Homo sapiens: one gene and its partners. The protein of the gene in region 2 purifies or fractionates together with the protein of the main gene of each other region. This does not show direct contact. Each region holds a gene or a part of one and is shown on either strand. Other genes may lie near its edges. The genes, in order: PTPN2, FLVCR1, MANEA, POMK, LNPEP, PICALM and ACSL4.

Region 1 (4,199 bases), on a different chromosome or scaffold from region 2:
AGACAAGTAGACAGTTACAAAACAATGTGGTTCATATTCTAATAAAAGAATATAGAGAACTAAGAAATGAGAGAAGGGGGAGCATTTAACTTTGCCCAAGGAGACTACGGTCTAGTCTTGAAGATGTTTCCCAAATAGATATGGTAGGCATGGAGTATATCCAACACATGAAGACTCCAAGGTGTGAGAGAGTAGCCAATCTTCAAGGGAATTCAGAGTTTGTGCAACCATGTAAAAGCACTGAGATTAGACAGCAGGCAGGAGAATGTGTAACTAGTAGGCAAGGGAAGTGTTTTAGAATAAGACAGCTTTGATTCACCTGCCTAACTGGCTGCCCCGCTGTAAGTATGAGAAGAACAGTGTGCACTTGATATCTGACTTCTAAAAATTAGCTGACTCACAAATGGTAAAAATTGTTCTCTAGCAATATTTGAACTACAAATTTCTAATAAAGAAAAATGGCGGCCAGGCGCAGTGGCTCATGCCTATAATCCCAGCACTTTGGGAGGCCGAGGCAGGTGGATCACAAAGTCAGGAGATCAAGACCATCCTGGCTAACACGGTCAAACCCCGTCTCTACTAAAAATACAAAAAATTAGCCTGGCGTGGTGGCGGGCGCCTGTAGTGTTGGCGGGCGCCTGTAGTCCCAGCTACTCAGAAGGCTGAGGCAGGAGAATGGCGTGAACCTGGGAGGCAGAGCTTGCAGCGAGCCGAGATGACGCCACTGCACTCCAGCCTGGGCAACAGAGCAAGACTGTCTCAAAAAAAGAAAAAGAAAAAAGAAAAATGGCCAGGCACAGTGGCTCATGCTTGTAATCCTAAGCCTTTGGAAGGCTGAGGTGGACAGATTGCTTGAACTCAGGAGTTGAAGACCAGCCTGGGCAAAATAGTTAAACCCTGTCTCTACAAAAAATACAAAAAAATTAGCCAGGCCCAGCTACGTGGGGGACTGAGGCAGGAGGATGTCTAAAGCCCAAGAGGTCGAGACTGCAGTGAGCTGAGATCACGCCACTGCACTCCAGACTGGGTGACAAAGTGAGACCCAGTCTCAAAAAGAAAAGAAAGAAAAAGAAAAAAAAAGAAAGAAAAAGGAAAAAAAGAAAGAAAAAGAAAAATGTGGCTGGGCGTGGTGGCTCACACCTGTAATCCCAGCAGCACTTTGGGAGGCCGAGGCAGGTGGATCACCTGAGGTCAGGAGTTCAAGACCAGCCTGACAAACATGGTGAAACCCCGTTTCTACTAAAAATACAAAAATTAGCTGGGCGTGCTGGTGGGCACCTGTAATCCCAGCTACTCGGGAGGCTGAGGCAGTAGAACTGCTTGAACCTGGGGGGAGCAGAGGTTGCAGTGAGCTGAGATCACACTACTGCACTCCAGCCTGGGGGACAGAGCAAGACTTGGTTTCAAAAAAAGAAAAATGAAGTCAGTCAGGAGTTCCATTGTTTATAAACCCTAATTAATCAACCAATTTCCAAGAGGCTGAGGTGAGAGGCTCACCTGAGCCCAGGAGTTTAAGGTTGCAGTGAGCTATGATTGCACCACTGCACTTGTACTCCAGACTGGGCAACAGAGTGAGAACTCTTTAAAAAAGAAAGGAATTTAAAAATAAATAAGCCAAATTCCTTCTGAGCCATCACTTCTTAGAAACAACCCATAACATAGCTTTTGCGATTCCCCAGTTTTAGTCTTTTCCTCAGTAGGCACACAGACTCCATTCCTTCTCTCTGCCTTTCTCAAAGCTCAGCCTGATGAAGACAGCAATCAGCAGTGACAAAAGGAAAAGCCAAAAAGGGATCATGAACATTACTCAAAAAGTCAGAATTAACCTCACACAATCAGACCAAATTAAACTTTTCCAACTGCACCCTTTGTTTTGCTGTTCTTGTTTTAGAGACAGGATCTCACTCTGTCACCTAGTCTGTAGTGCAGTGGCACAATTATGGCTCACTGCAGCCCTAACCTCCTGACCTCAAGTGATCCTCCCACCTCAGCCTCCCAAAGCGCTGGGATTACAGGGATGAGCCACCGCCTGGCCAGCACTCTTTCACGATCAATTCTTCCACCTGTGTGCTCTTGGTCCCATTGACTCTTGCTTTCTAAGATTTCTGGCTCCAACAATCATCCCTTCTATTTCAACCTCCACCTCTCTCTTTAGGTTCATCCCTGCAATCACATAAATATATCAAGTTGCCCTTTCCTCGTAAAAAGTCATTCATTCAGCACATATTTTCAAGTGCTTACTAAGCACCTGATACTGTGCAAAGCACTGGCAGTGCCTTCATGAAACTCTGAAGAAGTAATAAAAAATATAAACTCAGATTAACAGAGTCTGTTCTGCTCCAACCCAATAATTCATTTCTAAGAAACCTCCTATTATCAAACTCATGAAATAAAAGACACTTTTCAAAAGGAGCAAAAAGGAATAAGGGACCAGAGTTCCAGACTCAAAATACTAAATTCATTTTTCCCGCTAGAATTTCAACAAGGTATCAAGTTCTCCTACCACTAAGCAAGTCCAGCTTTTAGTTGTACTCAGTTTTTGCTCAAGAGCAAAGCCTTTCTTTTCCCAGCTCCATGAGCATTACCAAAAAAAGCACAACTCTTCAAAAACATTATCAGAAACATCACCCACTGCTGTGCTAAACAAAGCAGAAAGCCACCTTAAACACTTTTTTCCTACTCAAGCTGTGTTACTTTCAAGATAGTGGTTTGCTTAATGCAAATTGTGTTCCCGAAATCATTTGCTGCTGTATGACATCCAATTCCCGCTATGAAAGGGGAAGTCTTGGGATGCTAAAGAAGTACGCAACAGGGGCTCATACCCAGCATGGGCAGGTCAAGAAGGCCTGCCAAGGAAGTGAGACTTCAGGGATGAGTAGGAGGCAGTTTAAGCAAGAAAGGAAAGAGAAGGGGGGAAAGTTGTGCCAAGGCAAAGAGAACAACATTTACAAACGCCCTAAGGGGAGAATGGACACACACACTTCCAAGAATACAACACAGTGGAAAAGAGGGAGGAAAGTGATAGGGGAAATCAAGCAAGAGACACAGGCCATGAGGTCTTGTGAGCCGGAGGAGGGGCTGAATTTACACTGTGAGCAACGGAAAGCCGTTCAAGGGTTTAAGTGAGAAGTCACACAATCTTGCTTCATTTTAGCTACCTCTCCCCACTTCTTCAAGTTGGGCTTCTAAAAAGAGCAGTGTACACTTGGTAGTTTGCATTTCCTCCTACCTTCTCTCCTGAACTCCAGGTATCTGTCTTGTGTAGTCCGCTGACACAACTCCCTTTAAGGTATCTGTTAATCTAGCTGCTCAATGTCATGGCCCTCTCAGGCTGGCCCTTACCTGTCAGGTGGCCCTGCTCACCCTCAACTCCCTCCACTGCTTTCCTCCCCACTTCTGTGGTTGTTCCTCACCAGTCTTTTTTGCAAGTTCCTCTTTCTCCACCCATCCTTTTAAATGTTGTCTGTCAAGATTCTGTCCTTGGCCTTTGATATTTCCAAACGCTCTGTATCTTCCCTAGATGATCTCATCAATGTCTAAGACCTCAAATATCACCCATGTGTTCATGATTTCCAAAATCACATTTACTCAGACCCTCTCTCCCGAACTCCAAATTTATACATTCAACTAGCTTCATTTCAGTGTCTCGCAGGTACCTCAAACAGAATTAAAGTTTCAAAACCAAACTTGTACATAACGTATACCCCTTTACCATTTCATTTCAAATCTGTATCTCCCCTCCATCCCTCCTGCCACTGCCTAACAGAAGCTCATCATGTCTCTTCAGGTTTACTCCAACCGACTACTGCCCTGTGCTGCGTGCCTACACTTTCCTCATCCAGTCTGCTAGCAGTCAGAACGATCTTGCTAACAAGTAAATATGATCAGCCCAGAGCAGTGGCTCATGCCTGTAATCCCAGCACTTTGAGAGGCCGAGGCAGGCGGATCACCTGAGGTCAGGAGTTCGAGACCAGCCTGGCCAACATGTCGAAACCCTGTCTCTACTAAAAGTACAAAAAAATCAACCGGGCATGGTGGTGTGTGCCTGTAATTTCAACTACGCAGGAGGCTGAGGTAAGTGAATCACTTGAACCCAGGAGGCAGAGGTTGCAGTGAGCTGACGTCGCACCACTGCACTCCAGCCTGGGCGACAGAGCGGGACTCTGTCAAAAAAAAAAGAAGCAAATATGATCATGGTA
Region 2 (4,288 bases):
GTCATGTGGGAGGTCCATATGCAAGGTATCCCAGTGGCTGGTGAGGCTTCCTGATGGAGTCTGTGGAGTGCTGAGTAGGTTTCAGAGCCTTTCTTCCCTGCTCCCAGCCTTTCCCAACGCTTAGCTATGACAGTCACCTCAATATTTTAATTGGAGCAAGAAAGAGGTAGGGTTCTTAGGCAGCATCCCACACAGCTAGGGGCTGAGCACTCTCACTATGCTATCACCTTCTCCCATGGGAGAAATTGTGGACTGAGGGGAGTCTCTCTTGCCACTAAGCTGTGCCAACTTCAAAGAGTGATGCAGATAAAGTGAAAATCTTCTTCTTCCTTTTCTTTAATGCATTTATTCTCAGATATTTCTGCTCCAATGGTGTGCTGGAACTTCCACGTAGGACTTCTGGATTCCTACAAAAGAACTACCATCTGAAAGTACTGGTAAAAATCAATGCTTCTGTGGAAGAATGATGATATAAAGCTCCTATTCTGCCATCTTGCTAACATCACTCTCTAAAGTTACTTTTAAAGGAATAAAATATTTTAGTATCTATTTTAGCCCTGACCCTGGTAGACTTTGTTTCCTCATTTTATGTTCCATGCACTACCTCATTCCCTCTTTGCCCATTCTGAAATTTTATAATCCCTTTAAACTCCCCATGTGTACCTAAGCATCAGAATTTTTCAAAAAGTCACAGAAAATTAACATAAAAAAATAAATTTATTTTGAGTCTGAAATACTGAAGAACAAGCATACAGATAAATAGTACAAAGAACAAAAATTAGAACATGAGTAATGACTTAAGACACAGGCATTTTTCTAGCTATTGCATACAGACACATTTTTACACACAAACATATTTTTTAAAGACATCTCTCCAACATTCTCAAAAGGCAAGAGCTGTATTTGTGACATTTGTAATAAATGCAACAGCTTTTGAAACATCCAGTTTCTTTCCTAAGTCATTTGATTAAAATTCACACAAGTGATGATTACCTATTCCATTTTCTGAAAATACGACATACAGTCATGTTTCGATCAACAATTGACCACATATGACAGAGATCCTATAAGATTATAATGGAACTGAAAAATTCCTATCACCTAGTGATGCCACAGCCATTGTTACATTGTAGCACAATGTATTATCTGTTCTATGTTTAGATTACACAGATACCATTGTGTTACAGTTGCCTACAGTATTCAATACAGTACCATGCTGTACAGGTCTGTAGCCCAGAAGCGACAGACTTTGCCATCTAGCCCAGGTGTGCAGTAGGCTCTACCACCTAGGTTTGTGTAAGTACACTTCATGATGTTCACACAATGATGAAATCACCTAATGACAAATTTCTCAGAATGTAGCTCTGTCATGAAGTCACACATTACTGTAGAATTATAACATTCTTGCTTGACATATTACAGACAACTTTCACTCAAAATACAGAAAAATTATCAATTCATTTTGCATTGTCACATATTCCATCACCTTTCTAATCAACAAGGAAAAATAAACATAACATATATGTATATGCTTTTCAGAAATAAAGTATTCTAAATTTTATGTGTAATTTGTTCCAAACCTCAGGAACTCAACAAGTACATGATTATTTTAAACAACATTGATAGTTTAAAAATAAAAACATTTGGGGAGAGACCTTAAAATATATTTTTGGCCGTTTTTACCTGTAATGTAAATATCAAAGGAAGCTAATGATTGGACATACTCTGCTTGAGTTACCCTCAACTGACTAAAAAGGCTAAAAAGAAATGTAAAAGTCCGTTGTATCCATAAGGTAGCAATCACATTTGTTTATCCAATTGTCCAGGGAATTTTTCTCTGGCTGGATTCAAGTTCCTGTGATACAATAATTTGGTCTATTCCATGATTAATGGCATTTAATATTTTGGAAAGATCTTTGAGATCAAATTGAACACATTCATTTCATGGATGAGGAAAACGCTGCCCAGAGAGGTTTAATGATTTGTCCAGAGTTATAGGAACATACAGAAATACATCCAGGACATGGACACAGAGTTCCTGATTCTTAGTCAAATTCTTTAGATAACACATTCCCCAGGGTCAGATTCGACATAATTTACAGTCACTTGATTATAGAGAATGTTATAATTTCAATATATATCAATGCATATATTCTGCCTGATATAGTTGGGATACTTGTCCCTCCAATCTCACATTGAAATGTAATCCCCAATGTTGAAGGTTGGCCCTAATAGAAGGTGTTTGGGTCCTGCGGGTGGATCCCTCATGGCTTGGTGCTGTCCTTGCAGTAATGAGTGAGTTTTCACAAAATCTGGTTGTTTGAAGGTGTGTGGCACCTCCCTGCTCTCTTGCTCCTGCTTCGCCATGTGACATCTCTGCTCCCACTTAGCCTTTCACCATGAGTAAAGCTCCCTGAGGGCTCCCCAGAAGCCGAGCAGACACTGGTGCCATGCTTACACAGCCTGCAGAACTGTGAGCCACTTAAACCTCTTTTATTTATAAATTACCCAGTCTCAGGTATTTCTGTTCTTTTTTTCCTGAAACAGAGTCTCGCTCTGTCACCCAGGCTGGAGTGCAGTGGCGCAATCTCAGCTCACTGTAGCCTCCGCCTTCCAGGTTCAGGCAATTCTCATGCCTCAGCTTCCCAAGAAGCTGGGACTACAGGCGTGTGCCACCATGCCCGGCTAATTTGTGTGTGTGTGTGTGTGTGTATGTATTTTTAGTAGAGATGGGGTTTTGCCATGTTGGCCAGACTGGTCTTCAACTCCTGGCCTCAAATGATCCACCCACCTCAGCCTCCCAAAGTGCTGGGACTATAGGTGTGAGCCATCGTGCTCAACCTCAGGTTTTATTTATTTATTTATTTATTTATTTATTTATTTATTTATTTATTTGAGACAGTCTCACTTTATCTCCCAGGCTGGAGTGCAGTAGTGTGATTTTCGCTCACTGCAACCTCTGCCATTCGCATTCAAGCGATTCTCCTGCCTCAGCCTCCTGAGTAGCTGGGATTACAGGCGCCTGCCACTGCGCTAATTTTTGTATTTTTAGTAGAGATGGGGTTTCACCATCTTGGCCAGGCTGGTTTTGAACTCCTGACTTTGTGATCCACCTGCCTTGGCCTCCCAAAGTGCTGAGATTACAGGCATGAGCCACAGCACTGCGCCTGGCCTTTTTTTTTTTTTTTTTTTTTTTTTTTTTTTTTAGTAGAGATGGGGTTTTACCATGTTGGCCAGGCTGGTCTTGAACTCCTGACCTCAGGTGATCCACACGCTTCAGCCTCCCAAAGTGCTGGGATTACAGGCGTGAGCCACCACGCCCAGCCTAAATATTTCTTTATAGCAATGCAAGGATGGCCTAACACACTGCCTAAATCAAAATTGCTATTCACTTCAAGGGTATTCATTACCTGACTAGCTTTTTTGGGTGCATATGAACATAATGTAAATTTTATGGCTGATCAAATGTCATTACTATGAAGATACTCCCTATGAGCTCACAGAGTCAGGACATCAACAATATTTAAACTCTCACTGTAAACATGACACAGTGGTAGGCACTGTGGAAATATATTTGGTCCTATTTTCCCTACCTGAGCATGTAAAAGAGCAGACTATTCTAACAGTGTGATGACTCTGCAGTGAAGAAAAGAATCCACTCTCCCGGCACACTGATAGAGCATGTACCTGGGCATAGTATTCCTCAAAGGAGAATGGTCATAAAAATGATACTGCAGAATTCAAATAGCATTCAAGAGGTCTCCACTAAATGGGGACATGTAGGCTATCTGAAGTTATTATAGATTTCCTTATTTCAGGAATCTTCAAGGCAAAATATACGATGTGATACATGAAATCATGAAATAGCCAGTAACATACATGATGAAATTATCTTACTAGAAAGTTACACATCAGGAAAAAAAAAAAAAGAGAGTTTAAAAGAAAAAAAAGGCAATGGGTACAAAACTACTCTATCTCAAGTTGGAGTGAAAAAATACAGCGTTAGCATTTATCCATGATAGAAAGGCAGCACAGAAAAGAACTCAAGACAGAATGAACCTGTAACCAGGCTCCTTAATTAGAACATAATTCTAAGACCAAAGTCTGGGTAGAATCTGTACACAGAATAGTTTTTATAGCCATTGACTGCATGTGTTAAAAAGTACTTTGTAACAAGAGTACAATAAATGGGAAAAATCTTAGAGGTCATCTGAAAGCCTGATCCCAATGCTGTCCTTTGTGGGTGAGTAGTGTCATGTTGGTATGTTGTACTCAAACTGAAGTGGCT
Region 3 (4,199 bases), on a different chromosome or scaffold from region 2:
TAAACAAACATGCAAGAAAAGGAAATGATTGGTGCTTTAGTTATTTTTCATTATCTTTAGCAAATGTGACTAGGTTTTTTTTTGGAAGTGTAAATGAGTGAAACTAAAATTTAAATCTTGATTTTTCAAAGCGATTTAGTTTCTGTTCTTTTAAAGTATACTTGTCTGCATGTTTGCTAGAGCAAAGGCTGTTGCACTTATAACTGTCATTTAGTAGGCTGGTTTTGCAGAGAGTGTAAAAATCAGGGCTGGATTCCTTCCTCTATATCCTGCACCATTAAGAACACAGCAACGGAACAATTTTTTGAGTAAGACATGACAGAAATATTTGGTAGATTCCGTCATTGTTTAGCAAATAATCTGGTTTTCCTTCCCCTGCATGCAAAGAGTAAGTATACTTCCTGCCCTGTTGTTGTTGGGTTTGGCCTTATGGCTTGCTTTGGCTGATGAGATGTGAGAAGAGATAATGTATACTATGTGCTTGCATGATTATGCTCTTATTCTCTTTTATAAGAAAAGCATGCCCCTTTCTGCCTAGGACTCAGAATGACAGACACGTGGAGCTGATTTGAACCAGCCTGGAGCAGAACCATCATAAGCCAGTTCATAGATTTTATGTTCGAAAAGCAAATGTTTGTCTTTTAGAGCCACTGAGATTGTGGGGTTGTTACATGGCATTATCTAATCAAAACTTGACTGAATTAAATCATTCATCTAAGTAAAAGAAAATTAGGCAGATTCAGTGATTTTTTTTTTTTTTTTTTTTTTTTTTTTGCTTAGGATTATAGGGGAAAGAACCAACTCAGCCCTGGTGATCTTCTTTCATTTTAATAAATTTAGTATGTTATTTTAAAGTAGCATATTTTCTTTCTACTTTATGCAGAAATCACATTTCTTATACTAGGTTTATCAACATCCATTATTTCTTTGCATATGGCTCTAGAGTCATTTTATCTGCTTTTCAGGCTTATGCAGATTTCAACCATGTGAAACATGAATATAAGTATGTCCGTGATTCTTTTTTAAATGATTTTCACCTACATTTGAAACATGTTATATTAGTCATGGCCTCTCCTTTTTCTTTTTCCTTGTTAAATGAATATTGTGAATTCATGGCAGAAACTTTGGGAATCTTACCTAAATCCAGTATAAGTGACAGACTTAAGAGTTTAACTGTTGTTTGTTTTTGCATGCAAATCATTAGTCCATTTATTTATGCATGCATTCATTCATTTAGCACCTGCTACGTGTCAGATACAGTCCCAGATGCTGACAATATTAAGAAGAAGGATGAAGTATTATCTCTTTCCCTAAAATGCCTTGTAATCTACTGGAGGTCAGACACAAAGACAAGTAAATTTCAGGAAGAGAAAAGTATGAGGTATTATGGCACCACATAGGAGTAGGAAGACCTACCTCAATTTTGTTGTGGCAGGGGATAGGGGAGTGTGCAGGGGTGAAGGTAGAGAATAGAGTTGGAGAAGGAGAAAGTTATCAGATTTTCATTCAAAAAAGTTCATTTTATTAAAATTTATTTATTAAAGTTATTAAAATGCAGGGTAGGGAAGAGACAGGAAAGGTCAAAATTAAAAACATGAAATGAGGGAATGTTTATATTCTTATTCTTTAAAGATAAGAAAGACATTTCATTTTATGTATAGAATTCTGTTATTTTAAAATTTATTTTAACATTGATCTAATTGATTTTTCCAAATGGAATAGAGAGATGGAGACTAGATCACATCATTAATTAAAATTGCAAAGTAATGGCCGGGCGCGGTGGCTCACGCCTGTAATCCCAGCACTTTGGGAGGCCGAGGCGGGTGGATCATGAGGTCAGGAGATCGAGACCATCCTGGCTAACAAGGTGAAACCCCGTCTCTACTAAAAATACAAAAAATTAGCCGGGCGCGGTGGCGGGCGCCTGTAGTCCCAGCTACTCGGGAGGCTGAGGCAGGAGAATGGCGTGAACCCGGGAAGCGGAGCTTGCAGTGAGCCGAGATTGCGCCACTGCAGTCCGCAGTCCGGCCTGGGCGACAGAGCGAGACTCCGTCTCAAAAAAAAAAAAAAAAAAAAAAAAAATTGCAAAGTAATTTTATTATAATTAAGAAATTAGAAATACATGAGGGAAAATTTTAAATATTTTATACTTATCAATACTATATTTACTTTAAATATATTGATCTGCGCTTTACAAAAATAGCATGCTATTTGTTGTTTGCAGCTGTAAAAGCAAATTCATTTTGATATAGGATATTTCAAGTTGGATATTGCTTAAATATGGTGTCCTTTATGTATAAAATGGAAATTTAGAAAACACAGTGATGTAACTGAAGGAAGAATTACCCAAGGAAACATTATGTAATAGTATGAAAATACCTATACACTAGGCAATTTGCTTTCAACTGAATTTAAAAAGCAAATACCAAAGTTATTGAGAAATCTAGCTGCCCTAGCAGTTACTACCCTGGCAATACTAACAATATGCTGCAAAAATTAATTTGACCTTAGTTTTTTATGACAGAAACTTACTTTTATAATATTACTGTAATCTCATTTAAAGTAGAAAATTATATTTTTTTTAAATATTATTTAACTTTAAAATTAATTATGTGAAAACAAGTAGCACTGATTAATGTAAAATACATTTTGCTTTAATTGGGTAATTGAAAACAGAGGAGTTTCATATTGCAATAGAAGTCTCTAGTTCCATAAATACATCATAGAGCCTGAAACCTAAAATTAAAACAGTATCAATACATTTATTAGACTGCCATAAAGATTTTTAGTTGATGTTGGTAAGTCAGTAAAACTAGGAATAAAAGTGAAAATCCTCATTCTTTGTTTTATGAATCTGAAATAGATTGTCATCTAAGAGAAGTATCTTCTGTATTTTTTACCTTACTAGTTAGAAGTAGCATACAGAATGGTTTTACTAGCCATAATTAGTTTGTCTTGATTTATGTATAGCCAACCTTAAGTTAAAAAATTTTAGTCTGTGCACAGTATTTTAAAAATATTTGTAATTACTGCTCTCTATGTTTACATATATATATATAATGTATGTATGTGTGCGTATATATGTATGTAGGTGTGTGTGTGTGTGTGTGTGTGTGTGTGTGTGTATGGGATATCCAAACCATAAATACCTAGGCATCATGAAAAATGTCCTTTATAACACTAGTGGATATTATTTTTAAGCGATTTCATTATAAATTCTTTAATAGAAGTTAATGTATATTATTTTGTAAAATGCTGTTTTAATGATATGGAAGAATTTATATGTAAATAAATTTGCTAATGACTTCTATTTAAATTTAAGCTTAATGGTCACATGCCTGAAAAAAATCCAGATTTTTCTGGACCATATTTTTTTGGTCTTTTTCCTAAAAGAAACATATATCTGAATATAGAGTATTTCCTATATATATTATATGGGATACAAATATGTAAGAAACATTTTTATAAGGAGTAAACATAAAAAGAAGCATTGCACAGCAGTTAAGCATTTGAACTCGGAATTCAGATCATCAATATTACCTCCAACAAACTGGGTGACCTGGAACAACTTACTGAACCTTTCTTAAGGTTCTGTCTATCTTTGATTACCTCACTAAGAAAACAGAAATACCTTAGGGAGTTGTGAAGATTAACCAAGATAATAATATAAAATGTTTAGCATGTTATTTAGCAGTAAATTTTATTGGTAAAAATTCTCTGGTAGTTTCTGTGTTCAATAAATATTCATCTTTAATTAAGGTGATTAAATCAGTTACTTTATTAAATATATTAAGTATACTTCTAATTTTACATTATAGATAATTTATCCCCTAACTGATTTTATTGTTTGTTTTAGGTTACTTTTCACATAGAACCATATAGCAATCGAGATGATCAAAACATGTACAAAAATGTCAAGTATATTATAGACAAGTGAGTTTCTTCAATATTTATAAATATTGTTATATTATCCAGTGATAATTATTGTTTTAAGAATAGTACATTAAATTATATTTGAGATTTGAATGATTTATGATTATTCCATTTTTAATAAAATTAAATTGTTATTGTAATGAATGTCACCATCATTTCGAAGAACATTGCTGAAGTTTCTTATAATTCACTTTCTTTTTGGAAGATTGCTGTTTTTACTGTTTTACAGGTTTATAGGCTATTTATGATTTCTGTAGTTTTGATAT
Region 4 (3,909 bases), on a different chromosome or scaffold from region 2:
CTCAGTGGGGGAGCTTTTTGAGCCAGGATGAGCCAGGAAAAGGACTTTCACAAGGTAATGTCATCGCTTAAGGCAAGGACTGGCCATTTTCACTTCTTTTGTGGTGGAATATCATCAGTTAAGGCAAGGAGCGGCCATTTACACTTCTTTTGTGGTGGAATGTCATCAGTTAAGGCGGGGCAGGGCAAATTCACTTCTTTTGTGATTCTTCAGTTACTTCAGGCCATCTGGGCGTATATGTGCAAGTCACAGGGGATGCGATGGCTTGGCTTGGGCTCAGAAGCCTGACGAGAGAAATGTTATTAAGAAAAATCATAAGAAAAAATACATTTACTGTTAATTAAATACATTTACTGTTCTTTAAGTGGAAGTGGATCCATCATCCATCGCAAACGTCTTTATCCTTGGTTTTTTCACAGTGAGTGGGCTGAGGAGGAGGAGGAAAGGAAGAGGTTGGTCTTGGTATCCAAGGGGTGGTAAAGGCAGAAGAAAATCTGTGTGTAAGTGGAACTGCGCAGTTCAAACCCGTGTTGTTCAAGGGTCAAGTATATATAAAGAGCTCCCAGTAATTAATAAGCACAAGGCAGACAACCCTATAGAAAATTGGATAAAGGACAGTGAACAGACTTTTGACAGCAGAAATACAGAAATGCCTAAAAAGATGACAAATGCCTAGCCTTATTAGTAATCAGGGAAATACAAATTAGAAGAGTAAGGTATTTTCATCCATTGATTGGCACAAATTACAAACAGTGGTAATAATCTGGTGTGACTAAGGGTGTATTCCTAAGATTCTATCATGCGCTGCTGGTGAAAGTGCATGCTAGCACAGACTTTGGAGGGTAATGATGGCAATAGATATTTGGTAAATTCTGTCTGCCTACCTAGCTTATAAAATATTTGTGCATGTACATAGACATGTAAATATAAGGCTATACACTGTAGCATTGTCATTAGAAAAGGGACTAACTTAAATGTCCAGGTCTTTAGAAATAGATCATATAAGATCTTATTAAAGGTCTTTACAAAATTATAGCTACATAATAATCTTAAGAAAGAATCCAGTCTATTTTGACAGCATCAATTCCAAATTCCTGGTATTTTTATTATATTATACTTTAATTTTAAAGAAAAAAGGTAGTAGTATCTGTAAAAGCTTACTGGAAATACACAAGTGTAGGTATTATGCCCACACTATGAAACATTACTCAGCTTTAAAAAGAATGGCCTAGATCTACATGTATATATGGAAAGGATTTCTGAGGCTCAGTTAAATGAAAAAAGAGCTGCAATGTATGTATGTTATAACGCCATTAGTATAACAGCAAACCCAAATGCTGTTTTACAAGTGTACATTAATAAATAAAGGCATAGAAAAACTTCTGGGAGGATGACAGCCAGTTACCAGGTTTCCTTTGGGTCGGGAAGTAAAACTGGGGGCAGGGAGACATCCTGCCTATCCTCTGTATTTGAGTTTTTACCAAGAAAAGTGTTCACGATTAATTTTATAATAAAAAAGTAAAGTATTTTAACTGTTCTTTCCAAATAAAAGTCTTTTAGAAAATGATTAAAAGCAACTAAATTAGAGGTTGTGAGAAATGATTCTTAAACAGTCCATGACTAGCAAATTTTTTATATTGGAGGATTCAAATATTTGTGTGTGATCTCAAAGACTAATAGTATTTCATAATAATATTTAATAATCTTCATTTATCTGAAACAAAAATGAATGAGACACAAATGAGGGATCAGGAGCCCTGGGGCCTGTGGCTGAGCCTCCCCAACTTACTGTTTTTTTTGTTGTTGTTGTTACGGAGTCTCGCTCTGTTGCCCAGGCTGGAGTGCAGTGGCCTGATCTCGGCTAACTGCAAGCTCCGCCTCCACGGTTCATGCCATTCTGCCATTCTCCTGCCTCAGCCTCCTGAGTAGCTGGGACTACAGGCACCTGCCACCATGCCCGGCTAATTTTTTGTATTTTTAGTAGAGATGGGATTTCACCATGTTAGCCAGGATGGTCTTGATCTCCTGACCTCGTGATCCACCCGCCTCGGCCTCTTGAAGTGCTGGGATTACAGGCATGAGCCACTGCGGCCGGCCCCCCACTTATTGTTGAATGTGTAGCAGCAGCTTCCCAAAAGCCAGCATCGTTTTTAGGTGAAAAATGGGCCTAGAAAACCAAAGCCATTGCCAGTTCTGGTGGTGACCATGCAGAGGTGGGCGTAAGGAAGCCATGGATCTGAACAAAACCTCAGTTGTTCGTATTAGAGCCAATTATCAGATTCAGTGGGATGCAAATCTATGGAGAGCGTGTGTTCAATATGAAAATTTAAAAAAATCTTGAACTTTTAGAATGTGGTCTTATCTAGTCCTTAAAAATTAGGAAATTTTTAGTGCATGTAGCAGCCAGAGTGAAAAACAGCTTTTTTTTTTTTTTTTTTTTTTTTGAGACGAAGTCTCTAACCAGGCTGGTGTGCAGTGGTGTGATCTTGGCTCACTTCAGCCTCTGCCTCCTGGGTTCAAGCAATTCTCCTGCCTCAGCCTCCTGAGTAGCTGGGACTGCAGGCGCGCGCCACCACGCCCAGCTAATTATTTTGTATTTTTAGTAGAGATGGGGTTTCACCATGTTGCCAGGCTGGTCTCGATCTCCTGACCTTGTGATCCTCTTGCCTCGGCTCCCAAAGTGCTGGGATTACAGGCGTGAGCCACCGCGTCCGGCCCAAAAACAGCTTTTTAATAGAAGTTATTATCCTTAGTGAAATTTCTCAAATATGAGGATTAGAGAGTCTTGAAAGAGTTTTCATTTGAATGTTATGAGCCAATCAAAGTTATCTGGGTTTTTCCATAATGAACCTCCCTTCTTAGATCCAGAAAAGATCTTCATGGTCCTTGGGTCTAACTCCATTTTATATAATATTTCTTTTTCTTTTTTTTTTTTTAAATTCCCAATGTTAGTTTTTCTGAAATTTTATATATTTTTGAGTTAAAAAATTTAAGTTGTAAAAGTAATATATGTTCATCTTGGAAAATACCAAAAGATATGAAGGAAAAAAAAATCACCCAGAATCTTACCACATAAAGACAACTAAGGCATTAGCATATTTCCTTTGATTTCCATGTGCTGTAATTTAAATTTGTCTCGTTTTATGCAGTTGGAACAATATTATACAAATGGTTTTGTATACTTCTCATTTGTAACATTGCTTTTTTTTTTTTTGAGATGGAGTTTCACTCTTGTTCACCCAGGCTGGAGTGCAATGGTGTGATCTTGGCTCTCTGCAACCTCCACCTCCTGGGGTTCAAGCTACTCTTCTGCCTCAGCCTCCTGAGTAGCTGGGATTACAGGCATGCACCACCATGCCCGGCTAATTTTGTATTTTTAGTAGAGGTTTTAGGTTTTAGGTTTCGTCATGTTGGCTAGGCTGGTCTCCAACTCCTGACCTCAGGTGATCTGCCTGCCTTGGCTTCCAAAAGTGCTGGGATTATAGGTATGAGCCACCGCACCCAGCCGTACCATTACTTTTATCTGTTATAACTGTATAAATATATACATTTTGGTGACCGCATGATATATATATATATTGAATGATCCTCCCACCTCAGCCTCCCCTGAGTAGCTGGGGGTACATGTACGCTCCATTACACCCTGCTTGTTTCTTAATTTCTTTCTTTTTTTTTTTTTTTGAGACAGAGTTTCACTCTTGTTGCCCAGGCTGGAGCACAGTGGCGTGATCTTGGCTTACGGCAACCTCTGCCTCCCGGGTTCAAGTGATTCTCCTGCCTCAGCCTCCCAGGTAGCTGGGATTACAGGCATGCACCACCACGCCTGGCTAATTTTGTATTTTTAGTAGAGTCAGGGTTTCTCCATGTTGGTCAGGCTGGTCTTGAATTCCTGACCTCAGGTGATCCACC
Region 5 (4,199 bases), on a different chromosome or scaffold from region 2:
GAAAAGAAAAAGAGACATGTGGAGGATAGCGTGGAATAGCTGCCTGGCCTGTGCTCAAAATAGTAAGCAGTTTGGGATGGCCAGAGCATACTCAGGAATGGTATTTAGTGCTGGCTGGGATCTGACCATGGAAGATGCTTATACCAGTGCCTCTCAAACTTAAGTGCACGTGAGCACCCGAGGATTTGTTAAAATTCGTATTCTAGGTGGAGACTTCAGAGGCTGCGTTTCTAACAAGCTGCAATGTGATGCAAATGCTGCAGGGTCACAGGCCACACTGAACAGCAAAACTGCAAATTTTATCCTAATATTTATCAATAATATGTTTTATGGATGAAGAGTTTCCACCATTACAGTGTTTGTTGAATAGCACAAAATACATAGCATTTATCTTAAGCTAGATATTCAGTAGTTTTTTGTAAGCTTTGCTCTCCTGATGGTGAAATAATACTCTTAGCAACTTCATTGCCAGGTATGAAATAAATAATTCAGGGCTCTCATCTTTTATTGAATTAGTTTGAGTAGAGGGATGCAATATAATGAAAAGAGCATAAACTTTTGAATCAAATTTTTAGACCTGTGCTTTAATATCAGTTTTATGACTAAATAGCTGTGTGACTTTATGAAGACGAATTAATCTATTTCTCTTTTTCTATTTTCTCATGTCTAAAATAGAATACTTGCCATTTTATAGGATTGTTGTAAGGGTTAGAAATGATAGGTATAAAGTATCTTCCCTTGTAGGGAAGATTAGTGGAGGTTTCAATTTGATAACTTTTGAGATCCCTTAAAAACTAAAATTGTATGAATTTTAAATAAAAAACATTGAACGATCTAATCCTAGGAAGTACTGATATATGGGGGATTATCGACCCTTCTACTTCTAGAGTCTTTTTTCTCAGTGATTTTGGCAAATCGGAAGGTGTGGTTTGTTGTAGTTTGTAAAAGCTCCCACTGAGATCCACTAACACTCATGGTGTGCAGTATGGTTGTTTCCCATGGAAATATGTTGTACTTCTGAAAGCCATGGAAGCATGAAAAACAGATTGAATTATAATTTTATCTGACTTTTATTGTCTTTTGATCTTTTTAAAAATCATTTCTTGCTTATGGAAATTTCCCATATAATTTGCTGCTTCCCATTTGCTGTGGGACAGAAACATTCCTCTTTCAGGGGAAAACAATAACCCATCCTGTTGCTTAGCCATACTCAATCTTAGAAATGGGCATACCAGCTTGTGGTGCTCCCTAGAGAGAATGAGACTCAGGGATGAGACCCACAAATACCTTGGAAGCAGATTTGAGGCCTGTTGGACAGAAATTCTGGGATTGCAGTGCCCAAACCCTAGAAGGGGAACCGTGGACTGTAGGTGGGCACATCCCTTTGATCCTACTGACTCCTCGCCTGGTGGGGACAGACATAGTCAGAGGAATGCCAAAACAGTGCCCTCTCAAGCCCAGGGCAGGGTCCCAGGTTGTGGGGCAGGAGTATATTAAGGAAATTAGTATATTATCTCAGCTAACTTTTTAAAAATATAATAGCCTGTTTATTTAGCTTTCTTGTTTCATAACTGTGGTATACTTTTATTTATGTTTTAGTTTTTAATGGATGACTCAATGGTATAAACATCTTATTTAATTCAGTAGCTCTGAGATGGAAATAAGTCTTAGTGACTTAAAAAAATTCTTAGTTTAAATGTGGTCTAGGTAGAAGACATGTTATTAATATTATGAGCTTTTTTTTTTCTAACTCTGTGCCTTGTTCTTATGTTTTGGTTTTTTAGATCGGCTTCAGCTCCCCAGGAATATGATTGAAAACAGCATGTTTGAGGAAGAACCAGATGTGGTGGATTTAGCCAAAGAGCCTTGTTTACATCCTCTAGAGCCTGATGAGGTGGAATATGAGCCCCGGGGTTCCCGACTGCTGGTGCGGGGTCTTGGTGAGCATGAGATGGAGGAGGATGAAGAGGATTATGAGTCATCAGCAAAGCTGCTGGGCATGTCCTTCATGAATAGAAGCTCAGGCCTTCGGAACAGTGCAACTGGTTACAGGCAGAGCCCAGATGGGGCTTGTTCAGTACCCTCTGCAAGGACCATGGTGGTCTGTGCTTTTGTCATCGTGGTTGCTGTTTCTGTAATCATGGTGATTTACTTACTGCCCAGATGTACCTTTACCAAAGAAGGCTGCCATAAAAAAAACCAGTCAATTGGACTAATTCAGCCATTTGCAACAAATGGGAAATTGTTTCCATGGGCACAGATCAGGCTTCCCACTGCCGTTGTGCCACTACGCTATGAACTCAGCCTACACCCGAACCTAACCTCGATGACATTCAGGGGTTCTGTGACAATTTCAGTTCAGGCTCTTCAGGTCACATGGAATATCATTCTTCATAGCACAGGTCATAATATTTCAAGAGTGACCTTTATGTCAGCAGTTTCAAGCCAAGAAAAACAAGCTGAGATCCTGGAATATGCATATCATGGACAGATCGCCATTGTTGCCCCCGAAGCCCTTCTAGCAGGGCACAATTATACGTTGAAGATAGAGTACTCGGCAAATATATCTAGTTCTTATTATGGGTTTTATGGCTTCTCCTACACAGATGAAAGTAATGAGAAAAAGTAGGTAGCCCTCTTAAATGATTCTGGTTTTACGCTCTGATAACTTCTGCAATATAGATCCCTTTGTCCACACCAGAGACACGAATTGTGATTTTTTTTTTTAATTTAGGAAGTTATATACAAAATAGTAGAATGGTGATTTAGAACAATATATTATCTCTCTTAGTCAACGCCTTGAGCATATATCATGGTGGGGTGGAGATAGGGGTGTGCTGGTGGAAAAGGATGGATAAAGATTATATCCAAAACTTGTTATCTTGAGTTTTTCACATTTTTAAGGTGAATCTAGTTTTCTGTCACCTCATGAAGTCTGTTGGGAAGCAGAGTAAAGAGGAGTTATTCTTTAAGACCTATTTTCCTAATGTGCAGAACTTTTAGGAGGTACTTAGTGAAATACAGAAAGAGGGCATGAAGAAGTGTGAAGTGTGGTGTGCTTACATATATCATTTTTAATATCCTTAATCTTTACTGGTTTATTATTTTTTAAAATGCCAGTCTATTTTGGATTTCTGGTGTAAATTTTTTTTAAGGTCTAGGAGAGACTTAATTTGGTTCAGAAAAAAAGGTGAGACAAAATATAAAATTATTCAGCTCCCTATTTGGACTATATATTTAGTACTTTAATCTTAGCATTCATAGCATGTAGTTTGAAATTCTGGGAAGATGGAGTTCACACAGTATGGAGGTTATTCTTAAGTAGCAGTGATATCAGTTGTCTTGTGCACAAAATCCTCACGACATCTGCTTTATGCAATTGGAACATTCTCTCATATTACTCTGTAAAACAATATGTGAATTACTGATGCTGACCATTTGGCTAATGTATGTTGACATATTAAGAGAAATAGTTAGAAATGAGTATTCTACATCTAAAGGAAACTTTTTGATCCTTCTTAAATGGAGAAAGAGACCAAGCAAGATCCATAATTCTATTCAGATAAATAATTTTTATTTTATTTTCCCTCTATGTAATACTTTTAAAATAAATGGCATACTGGCCCTGCATTTCAATTCTTGCGTGAGATCTGGGATTGAACACAAATGTATAATTGCAATGGGAACTTGAAAGTTCTTGCCTTTAGTTCTCCTTCTATAATGCCTATTATCCCCAGGAAATGTAAGCTATGTGTAAAAACAAGAAATACATCCCTTAATTACTTTATCTACCAGTATAAATATGTATTCTAATCATACCTCAGAGAAGAAAAATTTATAAAAGCTTCTCTAATAGAACTAAGCAAAATTAAAAGAGAGAAAGACAAAAAAATGGCTTTGAATTATAGTTTTCAGACATCTTGAAAGGTATAAATAATCTAAACATTTACCTGGAATCAAGATATACTATCACTTGGGGGATTCATTTTACTGATACTTTTATTTTGTTTTGAATAGCAGAGTTTCACGTACTAATTTATTTTAATAGGTTGTAAAATACTGTTTTATAATACTCTATTTCTTAATCTTAAAGAAACATATTTCATTTTTCTGACATTTTCCACAACTCAATCCAGCCCATGGCAAGAGTCAACAAGTGGCCGTACCAAAAATCACCTTACTCTGCTGTATTTATTCCT
Region 6 (4,199 bases), on a different chromosome or scaffold from region 2:
TGCATACCATGTAATTATCAGGACATCTATCACACCTCAAACATTCATCATTTCTCTGTGTTGAGAACATTCTAAATCTTCTAGCTACTTTGATATAGGTAATACAATTGTTTTTAATTAGTAATTCTACTGTGCTATCAAACACTAGAACTTATTCCTTCTAACTGTATTTTTATAAAAAAGTTTTGAAGACATGTCTTTTAGATGTACAATAGTTGTGTAGATAGTAGATATAAACGCATTTAGTGCTTTGGGGAACATATAGAATATACAATAATAATTCTGTAAATGGGCTGTAAGATTTGCCCTTAATTACTATTAAAAAGGTGAAAATTTTTAGTATGTGACATAAAACATAGTGAAATTAGTTCTTTATCCAATAATTTGTTTCAGCCTCGAACAATGAACATTCTTTTCACTTCTTTCTCCTAGGACAGACTTCTTTTCAAGATCTCCATGTTGAGAACTTGCCCCTTAATGGGGTCAATGTTACTTAACTGGGGATTAAAGAAGGTAGCATACATGAGCAAACAAATCATAAAGCTGAAAGAAAAAAAAGAACTAAATTCAACAAACACCTACTAAGATTTCAGGGAGCAGGTAGCAACTGAGCATGCATACAGCAAGCAGTTCACGTAGTAAAACTTACACTGAGCTATTAGGCTCAGCTATTAGGAGTCAGTAGGCAGGCAGATGAGCTTTTAAGGGTGAGTTAATAAACAGCAACAACAAAGTGAAAGGAAAAAACTCACCACTCTCTATGGAACATTTAACATGTGCTAATAATGCACTGTGCTAAAACCTAGTCACCTGGGAGCATCTTAAAAACAAAAATTCTTGGGCCCCAGGCCCCACCTACTGAATCAAAACTCTAGGATTGGGACTCAGATATCTGTAGTTTAATAAACTCTCCAAATGCTTCTGATGTTAAAGTTGAGAACCACAGTCTCATCTGAAAACAAGGTTTCTCAAAAAAAGTTAAGAACTAACAGAGCCAGGATTCAAACCAGAATCTGACTTTTAAAACTACTTTAAGCCACTCTGAGGTTCAGAAAATGCCAATTGTTTTACTTTACCTGGCAATATTATATTTCCATGTTAAGTAGCTTAAATTAGACAACAAGATTATTAAAGTTAGTCTGGTAGGCTTCAATACCAAGAAACCTGGCAACTAAACTCTGTCACTGTGTTCCAGATTACAGAGTTTAAAACCAGGAAACAGATATGACAGACGTTTAATATCTAATGAAATGGTATTTTGAAATATATATCATATCCATATGTCAAAGAGCTATAAAGGGTCTTGAACCATTAGATGCCTCATAAATGTGTTTAATCATAATTTTTACACAATGAAAAGTTGGCCCAGAGATAACAGCTATATTCCTATTAGTATAAATCAGTGATTTAACTATCTTCCATTTCGTAAATACGTAAAATATAAACTCATCACTTTATCTTTAGGTATTATACCAATATCACCATTTATCGCCACCTCTTTGTGTGAATAGATTATAAAAGCATAAATAAAAGTAAACCTGAAAAGTTCTGCAAAATTTCTATTAGAAGTCTTTGAACCTACATATTCAAAGGTAACCTTAACTTCTACTCCTACCTGTTAGAAGAACTAGGGGTAGAAAATATGTCAATGGCTGGTGCAGTCATTATCCCTCCTGCTGAGGTGGATACAGGAGAGGCTGCAGTTGTTAAAGAGGTATGAGGTTTCTTTGCAAGTTCTTTTAGGCGCTGTTCCTGTTAAGAAAGGGAACTACCATAAGGATTCCAGAAACCAGATTTCTTTGTACAGCCTCTGAAAAAAGCATTTTCTAATTTGTTCTGATAGCAGATATTCTGTTTTACCTAATTCTATGTCAGGACGAAAAGTTAGACTGAGTTTCAGCCCATTAGGTAGCTATACATTTAAGACTCTAAGTCTGTGCAGAGGCCCCATTTACCTAATGAACACCTGTACTCATTTTTCGAAATAAGGAGAATGCACAAACTTACCTTTAAAGCTTTCAAACGTGCCTGTTCTTCCTCTAATGCTGCCTGCTTTTCCCTTTCATCCACTTTGGTCAGAGATAGACCAGTGCTTGCCAGGGAAGACACTGCATTGGAAAGTGTAGTTGCCCTAGGATAATTGAACAGAGATAATTTGGCTTTTTGCTAAACACTTCACATTACACCCAGGTCATGAAATGGTCTGGCAACCTTGCCATGGATAGGCACTATAATTATAAACTTAACTTCTGGATTCAAATCCAGTACTTCAGATGAAATATTCTACCTAGTGATCTACAGGATTAAAGCAATTAGAAAAATCTTGACTTAATATACACTCACTGCTTTCAGAGTAAGTGTTTGACTTTGGAAAGGGTTCACAACAGAGTGGGGCACATTGCCTCTTCCAAGCCCCAAGAGAGGAAACCAGTGCAATTGGGAAAGAGCCCACATAATCCCACAAAATCCCTGATGGGAAAAAGTGTTGAGTTTATCACAGGGAAAACCCTCTGCTAATTTACAGCCTACGTTTCGGCAGTGCCACAGGAACACCAAAACATGCATACCAGTAACACGTAACGTAAGTCTAGGTATGTTTCACCTATAACAACATCCCCAGAGGACTTCAGGTTCCTTCAAAAGAAGACTGGTTTCAATCTAGTCATCAGGCCATTTGGCATCTTTCTATGTGCTGCCCTTTTGCCAAACCAGAATTTCCTTTTTAATATACATGTACAATGTATCATTTTTCACTGGCAAGGCACCTCCTTTCCCTTTTATCAAAAACGTATCCACACTATAAACCTCAACATTAACTTTCCAAATGTTAACTCTAGGCTAAGTAAAACAAGTGGTAAAGAATTCTAACCTGAAGAACTACCTTGAGCTTTATTAATTTTCCTTTTACCACACACCAAACATCATTAGTTTCTACTCTTAAGCACGTAAAGTGGTAAAAACTACCTTTTAAATTTTATGTAATATTAGTATTATAAATAAGCCAATAAAAAGGTACAATTCAGAAGACAAAGGAAGAATAACATAGTTGTGACAGAAATGCAAGAAAACCAATAAATTTTATGATAAACATTTCAGGTAAATTGGTGCACCTGAACTACGTGGCTCTTTTTTTCGTTATTCTCTCAAATAAATGAGACTTATTGTTTTGACTGCTACTTCGAAAATCTTACTAGAAAATTCAAAGTACAAATCTAGGATTAAAAATGAGTACTAAAATCCAATAACGGCATTTCCCTTTGGAAATTATTTAAATTTTATTACTAAAAGAAAGATCAAAAGTTCTGAAACAACCAGAAAGTCTAAAAAGAACCAAAGGAAGGTTCTCACTATACAAATTCTTTCTTCATGCTGTTTTAAAAAAAGGTTCATAAGAAAACATGAGAATAACTCAAGTAATTTCTTAACCCAATACAAAAATCATGTTACCAGACTGATATGAAATGATTTCTGTTACTTTCAATTTGCTAGGTTAAATGGTCTTAGTCTGAGGAATTAGCTTAAAACATAATAAAGTGATTAAAATATAAAATATCAATAATCAACCCCATGAACTGGCATTAGGCAGAGATGATGCAATTTGATGTCAGATATTCTAGGTTTGAGTCCCAGCATTGCTACTACATACTTCACAGGGCTATTGTGAGGATTGAGCAAATTAATACGAAAGTATCTTGCAATTATAGGCCTGGCACGGTGGTTCATGCCTGTAATCCCAGCACTTTGGGAGGCTGAGGTGTGCAGATCACTTGAGTTCAGGGGTTCGAGACCAGCCTGCTCAACATGGTGAAACCCTGTCTCTACTAAAAATACAAAAATTAGCCGGCCGTGGTGGCATGCATCTGTAGTCCCACCCTTGGGAGGCTGAGGTGGGAGAATCGCTTGAACCCAGGAGGTGGAAGTTGCAAGTGAGTTGAGATTGTGCCACTGCACTCCAGCCTGGGCAATAGAGTGAGACTCTGCCTCGGGGGAAGAAAAAAAAAATGTATCTTATAACTACAAAGCACCACATAAAACAATGCATTAGCATCTTTAGGAGAAATTTTGACATCATAAACACAATTCTAAACTATGCAGTCACTGTCATTATCTTAACAGATGCTGACATTTATTGAAGGTCAGAAACAATTTCAAGAATTTGCATGTATTAATCCATTTAATCCTAATACTAATTCTATGAG
Region 7 (4,199 bases), on a different chromosome or scaffold from region 2:
CCCGGAATCCCAACTCCCAAGGTGACCACTAAAGCATTTCCACTGAAAAGCCTTGTGGTAATACATAACTAATACATAACTACCATGTGCAGTGTAGGCAGTAGTATAAGCAATAAATGCAAAAGGAGTTCAGAGGAAGTGCAAAATGGCCAAGAGTAACTAGGAGAGGCTTTGTGGAGATTAGATTTAAGCTGGACCTTATGTTGGGCATCTAGAAATGAAAGAGGAATGGAAGGTATTCCAGGCTCAGGGACCATATGAAAAAAGATACGAAGGTGGGAATGAAAGGACTTTGGGAGAATAGGAAGTACCAATAGCAAGGACACTAGTCTGACTGGGGCACAGCATACACTAAATACGCTAAATACGCTTGACTAAATACGCTACGGTAGTTACAAAATCTAACAAATCAGGCAAAGTAATTTTGATTGGATTATGTGGAAAGCTGGGGGCTGCTGCAGGTTAGAAAAACAGTGCCATTGGAAAGAAACCGCAGAAACAGGCTCAAGAATAGTAATATTTCTTTTCTTTCTTTTTTTTTTTTTTTTTTTTTTGAGACAAGGTCTCACTTTGTCACACGGGCCAGAGTGCAGTGGCATGATCTCAGCTCACTGCAACCTCTGCCTCCCGGACTCAAAAGATCCTCCCACCTCAGCCTCCCGAGTAGCTGGGAACACAGATGTGCATCACCATGCCTGGCTAGTTTTTTTCCATTTTTTGTAGAGACGGGGTTTTGCCATTGTTGCTCAGGCTGTTCTCAAAATCCTGGACTCAAGCTATCTGCCCTCAATGGCCTCCCAAAGTGCTGGGATTACAGGCGGGGGCCACCACACCCGGCCCAAGAATAGGAACATTTTTTAAGGAGCTTACCTTCAACTGAGAAAGCTACTTCGGTGAGTTGTAGCATATTTCAACCAGAAAAATCAAAATATTAGTTCACTTTGAAGAGACAAACTGAAGCCCATCCTTCTGCAACTTTTGTAGAAACAGACTGACAGACTTAATTCAATTGACCCCAGGCTAGTTGATTGTTTTTATACCATCTAATATAAAATGGTAGCTTAATCCTGCCTGTGCCTTTGTTCATGTAATTTAGTTGAGTACAGTGAAATGAGAAAGAAACTGGAAGTCACTGGGTGTCAATCCTCATCTCTGCCCCTAACTGGCTGTGTAACCTTGAGCAAACCATCTACCTCAGTCTGGGACCACACTAGATCAGCAGGCCTTAACCTCTTAGAGATGATGGGCCTTTTTGAGAATGAGAACGAGGAACCCAATTCCCCTCAGAAAGACATGCTAAATGATACACACAATGTCAAGTGATTCACAAGTTCCTTGAAATCCATCCATGAACTTCAAAGGGCAACAACCCTGAACTAAAAATGTCTGGCCTAGGTGATTCTTAGGGCCTTTCCAGCTTTAAATTCTATGACTTACCCTACTTGGAAAGTACCTTCTTAGTCTCTCGGACAAGTCTGGTCATTCATTTCTTCAAGATAAGGTATGTCATGTCAAGGGTTTATCATAATGCTGAATGTAAGATCCCCTCTAACAATCCTCTCCTCCCACTGAAGATTTCATGGCTACCCAAGTCCAGAACAATCTTTACTTTTTCTAATTTCACACATCATTAGCAATATCTACCACTCAATCTGATACATGATTATACTACCATCACTTCCAAACTTCTGGGTACCACAGTATAGAACACGGACCAGTAGTTCTCAACCATATCAAACCCAGTACCTCTTTCTTATGACAAATATTTTGTGATACCTCTTCATCAACATCAAAGGATAGTCATAATCTACCAACACACCATTTTAAAAAATGATTTCTTACTGGTAATATAAAAGAGTACCATAAAGAAACTAATTTAAAATTTAACAAAATACTTGTTTCAATACATACATTCTCAGAGACAATATTAGCAGACATAAAAGCATGTCTTCAGATTTATAAAATGCCCCTAAGGGGTGAGTACCACCTTACCCTCAATTGAGAAATCTTCAGGCTTAAGGCTGAAAATATATAAAGAAACAGAAAATAGCTTTTGAAGAGCCTGTACTTTAGTTGGATTTAAAATGCATTGTATGTTTTTTAGTTATTGATGTTACATAAATTTAATCTTTTATACATATTTGCCTTAAGTCTTAGAGAAAGAGAAATGCTTTCTAGGTAATCCTCATAGTGCTTAGTACAGACACACACACACGCATGCACACACACACACACACACACACACACACAGTAGGCAAGGCTCAAAGAACATTCAGGTGAGAAGAAACCAGAGAGATCATTTAGTCTAGAGGTTTTCAAATTCTTTCTGCAGGTAGTGAGGGGGTCATGGGTCATCCATTTGAATAAAATCTTATATAGATATAAAAACACAAGCGTAGATGAAAGCAAAAAGCATAGCTGCTCTGGTAGAGGAGGCTATGACAGCCCCTGAAGGGACTCCTTGGAACTTCCAGTTCAGCTGAATATTTGAACCACTGATATTGTCTGAGCCCTCATCTTACAGAGAAGCAAATGAATGGCAGAGCACAAATCGAGCACCCAGTGCTCTTTCAAGTACACTAGCCAGCCTCTGCCCAGTTTTGCCTATCATCTTAAACTATAATACTTCCTTGTCAGGGGTTATACTCAGTCTATTGATAAATTCATTTCAAAAAAGATTTAAACATTTCATTTCACTTCAAAAAAAGAAGAGTTGGTGGTAAGGGTATGATGCTGAGCATCGTACCCATCATTAGGCAAAATATAATGTCTCATAAGAGAAACAACAAAAATTTTCTAGGCTAACAGATCTGGGTTTAAAATGTGGTTCTATGCAGCCATAAAAAACAATGAGTTCATGTCCTTTGCATGGAGATGGATGAAGCTGGAAACCATCATTCTCAGCAAACTAACACAGGAACAGAAAACTTAACACTGCATGTTCTTACTCACAAGTGGAAGTTGAACAATGAGAAAACATGGACACAGGGAGGGTTACATCACACACAGGGGCCTGTCAGGGGATGGAGGGCTAGGGGAGGGATAGCATTAGGAGAAATACCTAACGTAGATGATGGGTTGATGGGTGCAGCAAACCACCATGGCACGTGTATACCTATGTAACAAACCTGCACGTTCTGCACATGTATCCCAGAATTTAAAGTATGATTTAAAAAAGAAAGCTCTATATTAGTGGCTTCATCTGTAAAACAGGAATACTGCTTATATTACCTACTTTATAGTGCTTTTGTGAGAAACCTTTGTCTTCTTCCTCTTAAATTCCATAGGCAATCATACTCAGTCCCTCTTGGTTGTCTCACTTGGTTGTACTTAATCATCTCAACCACAGCCTGGTTCTATCCTATCCAATTCTCCACCTAATCTGTACCTGTACCTATGCAGCTGAATTTGCTGTGAGAAACACATGACTGTGTTGAGTGTCTCACTTTAAACTTGTGATTGCTACCTCAAATGGACTCTCCCTGATGCAGAGAGACCACACCGCACTAGTCCACTCACTGGCCCACTCCTCTGGATTTCATACTTTACTCTCTTCAGACCACCAACATTCCTCATCCAGACTTATTCTCAGCAGCTGACCTATTTTGCAGACAAAACAGCAACAATCCAAAGATAATTTCCACAGACTCTCACTGCTACATCTACCCACCTAATCAAATCTGTGGCCACATGCTGTTTTCTCTCCTGTGACTATGGATGAACTGTTGATGCTCCAAGCTGAGGCCAACCCCTTCATTTATGCATTACACCCTGTCTTTATAAGGACACGGAAGTGCTACTCTACCAATTCTTCCCTCTCGTCCTTCCTCATTAATTTTCCCTGCTCTTCTGAACTATTCCCTTCAGCATCATAACCAGCTGTTATTTCTTTCATCTTAAAAAACATTCCCTCCTTTGCATCTTCTTTTCAGCTATAGCCCATTTATTTTCTATCTCTTTGGCACTCCTTGAAAGAGGTGTCTATGGCTCTCTGTCTCCCAGTTCTCTCCTATTTTCTCTTGAACCCACTACAATCAGGCTTATGTCTCCTACCACTCTATAAACTTGTTCTCCTCATCAGGGTCTCCAATGACTTCCATGCTATTAGATCCAAAGGTCAATTAAAGCTCAGTTCTCTTCTTCCTTGACCCACTGGCAGCCTTTAACACAGCTGAGCCCTCTTCTGCTTTAAACTTCTT

The links.
Region 1: the proteins of FLVCR1 (region 2) and PTPN2 purify together in Homo sapiens (affinity purification with mass spectrometry; one large-scale study listed by BioGRID and IntAct). This does not show direct contact.
Region 3: the proteins of FLVCR1 (region 2) and MANEA purify together in Homo sapiens (affinity purification with mass spectrometry; one large-scale study listed by BioGRID and IntAct). This does not show direct contact.
Region 4: the proteins of FLVCR1 (region 2) and POMK purify together in Homo sapiens (affinity purification with mass spectrometry; one large-scale study listed by BioGRID and IntAct). This does not show direct contact.
Region 5: the proteins of FLVCR1 (region 2) and LNPEP purify together in Homo sapiens (affinity purification with mass spectrometry; one large-scale study listed by BioGRID and IntAct). This does not show direct contact.
Region 6: the proteins of FLVCR1 (region 2) and PICALM fractionate together in Homo sapiens (co-fractionation; one large-scale study listed by BioGRID). This does not show direct contact.
Region 7: the proteins of FLVCR1 (region 2) and ACSL4 purify together in Homo sapiens (affinity purification with mass spectrometry; one large-scale study listed by BioGRID and IntAct). This does not show direct contact.

What each region holds. Positions count from the first base shown.
Region 1 is NC_000018.10:12,877,267-12,881,465, forward strand, and holds part of PTPN2 (tyrosine-protein phosphatase non-receptor type 2), read right to left. Parts: intron 1-4,199. UniProt on the Homo sapiens protein: Non-receptor type tyrosine-specific phosphatase that dephosphorylates receptor protein tyrosine kinases including INSR, EGFR, CSF1R, PDGFR.
Region 2 is NC_000001.11:212,895,774-212,900,061, reverse strand, and holds the end of FLVCR1 (choline/ethanolamine transporter FLVCR1), read right to left. Parts: 3' UTR 699-4,288; downstream 1-698.
Region 3 is NC_000006.12:95,600,971-95,605,169, forward strand, and holds part of MANEA (glycoprotein endo-alpha-1,2-mannosidase), read left to right. Parts: intron 1-3,856; coding exon 3,857-3,933; intron 3,934-4,199.
Region 4 is NC_000008.11:43,117,014-43,120,922, forward strand, and holds part of POMK (protein O-mannose kinase), read left to right. Parts: intron 1-3,909. UniProt on the Homo sapiens protein: Protein O-mannose kinase that specifically mediates phosphorylation at the 6-position of an O-mannose of the trisaccharide (N-acetylgalactosamine (GalNAc)-beta-1,3-N-acetylglucosamine (GlcNAc)-beta-1,4-mannose) to generate phosphorylated O-mannosyl trisaccharide (N-acetylgalactosamine-beta-1,3-N-acetylglucosamine-beta-1,4-(phosphate-6-)mannose).
Region 5 is NC_000005.10:96,977,354-96,981,552, forward strand, and holds part of LNPEP (leucyl-cystinyl aminopeptidase), read left to right. Parts: intron 1-1,784; coding exon 1,785-2,625; intron 2,626-4,199. UniProt on the Homo sapiens protein: Release of an N-terminal amino acid, cleaves before cysteine, leucine as well as other amino acids. Degrades peptide hormones such as oxytocin, vasopressin and angiotensin III, and plays a role in maintaining homeostasis during pregnancy.
Region 6 is NC_000011.10:85,999,028-86,003,226, forward strand, and holds part of PICALM (phosphatidylinositol-binding clathrin assembly protein), read right to left. Parts: intron 2,132-4,199; coding exon 2,008-2,131; intron 1,753-2,007; coding exon 1,616-1,752; intron 1-1,615. UniProt on the Homo sapiens protein: Cytoplasmic adapter protein that plays a critical role in clathrin-mediated endocytosis which is important in processes such as internalization of cell receptors, synaptic transmission or removal of apoptotic cells.
Region 7 is NC_000023.11:109,684,557-109,688,755, forward strand, and holds part of ACSL4 (long-chain-fatty-acid--CoA ligase 4), read right to left. Parts: intron 889-4,199; exon of another isoform or gene 871-888; intron 1-870. UniProt on the Homo sapiens protein: Catalyzes the conversion of long-chain fatty acids to their active form acyl-CoA for both synthesis of cellular lipids, and degradation via beta-oxidation. Preferentially activates arachidonate and eicosapentaenoate as substrates.